Linked DNA regions of Homo sapiens: region 2 is linked to region 1. Evidence: fine-mapped expression QTL. Tissue or cell type: fibroblasts. Region 1 holds a variant in brackets; the other region holds the start of a gene. All regions are shown on one strand. Distances are between the middles of the regions.

Region 1 (2,766 bases):
AGGTAAACCTCCAAAGGGCCCACCAATATCAAGCAAAGGCTATGGAGGTTTACACCTCCTTACATGCTTATCCTTTTGTTTTGTTTTGTTTTTTTGAGACAAGGTCTTGCTGTGTTGTCCAGGCTGAAGTGCAGTGGCATGATTTCAGCTCACTGCAACCTCTGCCTCCTGGACTCAAGCCCTCCTCCCACCTCAGCCTCCTGAGTAGCTGGGACTATAGGCACACATCTCCATGCCTGGCTAATTTTTGTGTATTTTGTAGAGATGGTGTTTCACCATGTTGCCCAGCTGGTCTCGATCTTATGAGCTCAAGTGATCTTCCCACCTTGGCCTCCCAAAGTTCTGGAATTACAGGTGTGAGCCACTGGGCTGACCTGCTTATCCTTTTCTGATTCCATTTCTTTCATCTTGATAGCCAGGAGTCAGGTTGTGTTTTTTAAATCTAATTATAGTTCAGTAATTGTACTCAACAAAATTTCTTCTATTATGTTTCAATTATAAGTATTGCCAGAGAGTTTTATACCAGTGGTTTTTCAAGTGAAGTCTGGTCTTGGAACCAACAGTAGAGTATCACCAGGGAATGCCATAGAAATGCAAATCCTTGGGCGTCATTACAGACCTACTGAGTCAGAAAGTCTGGGGTAGCGCTCATTGACTTGTGTTTGCCCAAGCTTTCCAGGTGATTTCGATGTTAGCTAAAATTGGACTGTTTTAAACTCTTAATCGATGAAATTGACATTGAGGTAAATTGTAGTTTAATTTTTGTCCTGAGCTACCTAAAAAGTCTGTCCAGCATTTATAATATTTTTCTTACTTATATCCACATCCCCACATTGGCTCCCTGAGATGGTAGTAGAGTATAATGGTTCAGTGTGTGGGCTCTGAAGATGAACTGTAAGTTGGAATACTGGTGTTATTACTTACACTTCATATGGGCCCTGGAAAAGTTACTTCTCTGTGAAATGCAGTCATGGTACTTCCTGCCTTCTGAGGTCTTTGTGATAATTAAATAAGTAAAATGTTAGCTATAGTTGTTATTATTTAGCACAGTTATTTGCACAATGAATCATGAAGTATTGTTTTGGAAAGTAATATTTTAAGTTTCAACCAAGGACTTTAAAAATGAACTTTTGGGGAGACAACCAATTTGGGAGAGTTTCTGGGGTAATATATAATCTTCATGGCTCATTAGCCATATTTTTTCCTTTCTGAGTGTTGTTTGCAATTTCATTTTAATAATTTATTAGTAACTAAAAGTAGCTATAAAGAAGACA[T/C]TTATGCCAAAATATTTGAAGGTTATTTTCTTCATTTTTCTCTAATATTTTCACTTTTGAAAGGGAAGAAAATAATTGTATAAGCATCAGCCATCTTCTGCAGCCTTTTGCATCTATTTTGTTACCTTACGAGATCATCACAGTCCTTACTAAAACAAAAATTGTCACAACGTGAGTGAATTTAATATAAACTAGCATTTCCCCCTTCCCTTAGTGAATAATCATTGTTTGTAGAAAAAGCTCCCATCATTGAGTCATGTTTGTGATCAACACAAAGGGTAAATGAAAGGACCTTAGAGTGGTGAATAGGTATTCCTGCCTTGAGGGTTTCTTTTTCATTTAAACATTGGTGTACAAATACTTCAGTAGCTAATGCATTCTTGGTTACTCCTTAAGATATCTTATTCTTCTCTAAGTTTTTCTAATTGCAGTGCAATGACAACAGTCACATATCTGCCACTTATAGGAAGGGAGTAGAAAAGGAGGAGGCTGGGAAGACAGCTGTGTAAAGGTGAGATACGTGAGCACTGATGAACTTCACTCTCCACTGCAGCCCATATATAGCCTGCAGTTGTGTGCTTCTTTATTTTAGTCTCTACTAGGCTCTGGCAAGGAAAACAACATATTCTGCTGGAAGAAATTTTTCATTTGCCACTGCAATTTTTTTTTTTTGCCACTGCAATTTTTTTTAAAAGGGAGAGGTTAAGAATTAGGTGGTATTTGGTTTTCTGTTCGTGTGTTAGTTTACTAAGGATAATGGCCTCCAGCTCCATCCATGTCCCTCCAAAGGACATGATCTCGTTCTTTTTAATGGCTGCATTGGATCAGGAAAAATAACTAATGGGCTTAATACCTGGCTGATGAAATAATCTGTACAGCAAACCCCCGTGACCCAAATTTACCTGTGTAACAAACCTGCACATGTACTCCTGAACTTACAAGTTAAAAAAAAATGAAATAAAATGTGGAAAAAAAATTCGGTGGTGAAAACATTTTTTTCTTGATGTTATTCTCAGCCAAACAAGCTCATGCAAGCCGGAAAGATGTGGGAGTAAATATGGCAATGCCATTCATTAATCATGAAAACCATATTAAGGAAAGGGCTTCCCCTAACCCTCAATGTAATATACTAGGTCACCAGATCCATTTTTAGATTCAGAGATTTCTGTTCTCTGTTCAGAATCAAGAAACAGATGATGTATTACAGTTTTGCCTTTCCCTTCAGGAAGAGGAATAAAATATGCTTGAGAAGAAGATGGATTTGATTTTCTATAACCTTATAGTATGGAATGCATTTAGTGGGCTGAAAGTTGCAAATATTGTATATGCCTTTTCCCCTGATTGTCATTAATTTGGGGTTTTGAGGAGGAGGAATTTACAACTTACTCTTTCCATTTTCAAAACCAGAGTATAAAAACATGCTCTTTCGACCTTGAAAAATTGATTTTCAATTTATTATACATCAGAGGAACTATAGCCAATATTTTTAGAG
Region 2 (2,766 bases), 28 kb before region 1:
ATACATATGTGAACTTGGAAGTAGATCTTTCCCCTGTCCAGCCTTCAGATCAGACCACAGCCTTAGTCACCACTCCAATTGTGGCCTCCTGAGAGACACTGAGCTAAGGGCATCCAGGTTCTTGACCCACAAACTGTGAAATACATGTTGCTTTTAAAAAATTCCAAGAGTGGCCCTTAAATTTCTTTGGGACTATACCGTGTAATAGCGACTGACTCAAAAGGGTAGTCTGGAAACCTAATCTTAGCCCCTGGTCACCTCTAGCTAGTGTGCACAGACCTCAGATCTTGTCAGTCTCATTTCCCTACCTGTTAACGTGAGACAGTTGGGCAGAAGAACTTTAGCTTCCCTTAAATGCTACAACTCAGCGTCTCTATTAATCATACCGTTTATTCATCAAAATGAATACTGATAAAAATGACAAGTAGAACACACCCTAGATGTTCAGGCCTCTGGAATTGGTGGCAGCGTTCCAGCTTCCTTTCTGCCTGTAACTGTGAGTAAGTCCTGCTTTACCTCCTTCCCACCCCCCGCACCCACCAACAGCTCTCTATCATAAGCTAATCAGCTTGAAATAATTGTTAGGGCACTTCTGTGTATGGCCTGTGCATGTGCCAGTGTGTACACCGTGCAAGCTGAGCTGTTGAGGTTCTGGATGTGCATACAGCCCTGGCACCGGAAGGTTTGCCTCTAGCATTTTGTGGACTAACTCTGGCAGTACACAATGGGAAGAAAACCTCTTTCCAAGTGTGAGCCCTTCTCTCTTCTCATTCCCAAGGAGGTGTGTCCAGATCCCTTTGCCAGACAGCTACTTTACAGGAGCATTGGAGAGCAGGCAGCTAACTTTCCCCAACAAGCAGCTGGATTTACGTTGGCAAATCAATCCCTCTCAATAAAATGTTATGTGACCATCTTCCCAGCCCCCCGTTAAAATCCCTTCATTTTTTCGAGCAAGCGAACTAGTCAGAGAAGACAGAAAAGTTAAGTAAAGAAAGTGGCAGAAAAGTGAAGCAAAGCAACAGCCCGGGAGCGTGGCGGGGGGACCCGCGCGGGGACTCGGGTAGGCTGCAAACGCTGGGGAGATGCCACAGGAGCGCCTGCCTTCCCAGCTTCTCCTTTCTCTCGCCGAGGGTCTCTGGGGTTCAGCGCTCCCGGCGTTTCGGCGACCTCCGGGTCCGCCCTGTCCCCTCCCAGCTGGGGAGCTGAGCCCGGCTCTGCGCCCATCGCCGACCCCGGCCACTCTCCCTTCGCTGCTCGCTCCAAAAGCGCCTGTCCCGCCCCGCGGGGCGACTTCTCCCTTTCGGCCCTGGGGTTGAAGATCCTGTGTGGGGCAGCTGCGCCTTCGGGACAGCCCCAGCCGCGGAGCGCCCAGACCAGGGCAGCCGGAGTCGGGTCATACGCCGCACGCCGCCGGGGCCGCCGCACCTGAGCCCAGCTCCAGTCACGCCGGAAGCGCGGGCGGAGCGCACGGGTCCGGGGAGAGTCGCCTGCGCCCGCGAGGGGGACCCAAGTACCTAGGGTGGTGGCCGAGTCCCGCCTCCCGCCAGCGGGGGCGAGGACCTGCGACGCGCACCCCTGCCTGGCCCGGTCTCCTCAGCACCAGCCCCACGCACACCCTACTTCCTCAGCTTCTCGCCCTCACCCTGCCAACTTCCCTGCGAGGAGGGACCTGCCGCCAGCCTGCTTCCTCGTCCGCAGGCCCTGCGCTGAACGCTGCCGCGCCCAGGGTTCACCTTGCGCCGTCGGGAAAGCCCATGAACTCTCCAGAAACGGCGTAAAGGAGGGTCCCGCCGCGGCGCAGGGCTGGGGCGCCTGGGTTCCCCCTGGGTGGAGCAGCGGCAGCAGAGCGGGAAAGTGGTGGAGGATGATCTTGCGGCCAAAGGGGACCTCGGCGCAGTAATGTCAACATGTAAGTCTCACCTTTCAGCTTGGAATTCCTTCACTCTTTTATCTGTGTCCACCTTCTGTCGCCCCCTCCCCGACCACCCCACCCTCAAGAGAAATGATTTTATAAGGACTTCAACTGCACGGAGGGAATAAACCGGTTTGTCTTCAGTTTGCCCCTCGAGGCACTGAGGAGTAGGACTATTGCCAAGTGGAGTTGTGACATGTGTGTGTGGCTGTTTTTTTTCCCCCAGCGAGGTAAACCTCACATTTGGGCGGTGTAAAGCCTAATAAGAAGGGCAGGGCTTCAAGAATGGGGAAAACGTGTTTTCAATTCAAATTAAACAAGGAGTAACAGGCACCGCTCCTCAGTCCAGAGGCCTGGCCCTGCCAAGAAGGCGCTCTCCGGAATCAACACCTGGGGGCTTGGAAGGTACTAGTATGCCGAGAAAATGTTGACTTTACACATTGTCACCATTGACTGTAGAAGTTATTCTTGGATCTTTGGGGTGTTTGAATTTTTTTAAGGTGTGCAGAAAATGTTTTCAGTGTGCTTTGTAGTTTAGGAAGTAATTAAGGGTTACGCCACGTTACGTGATAGGATTTGAGGGGACTTCCATAGACTTATGGGGGGCGTGGGGAATTGGGGCATTGAAACAGAGAAACCTAAAAGGTTTTGCCTCCATAGAATTGTCATCCTAATGGTGAGGTGGCGCACAGCGACCCCATGAAAGGGTCGCCAAGCACCGTCTGGCTTTCCAGAATGGGAAAAGGAAGATTGTACTCCAAAGGGCCAAGCTTATTTTTGTGGCCAACTAAGAAGTTTCTTTTTCTTGTAATAGGTAATTTTCCTTCTGATGTTTTAGTTAATCTTGGACGGAC

What was found. PIP is the estimated chance that this variant, and not a neighbour inherited with it, causes the effect.
Region 2: ADGRG6 starts here. The variant in region 1 is fine-mapped to the expression of ADGRG6 in fibroblasts (GTEx, PIP 0.92).

What each region holds. Positions count from the first base shown.
Region 1 is chr6:142,328,126-142,330,891 of GRCh38, forward strand. All of the region lies in intron 2 of ADGRG6 (adhesion G protein-coupled receptor G6), which reads left to right. Among named protein-coding and RNA genes, the nearest start is that of ADGRG6, 28 kb to the left of the region's middle. The variant T/C (reference allele first, on the strand shown) is at 1,275.
Region 2 is chr6:142,300,423-142,303,188 of GRCh38, forward strand. It overlaps ADGRG6 (adhesion G protein-coupled receptor G6), which reads left to right and starts at 1,585. Exons shown (of 25, transcript NM_198569.3): 1 at 1,585-1,909. The coding sequence starts at 1,908. RefSeq lists a silencer at 1,375-1,514.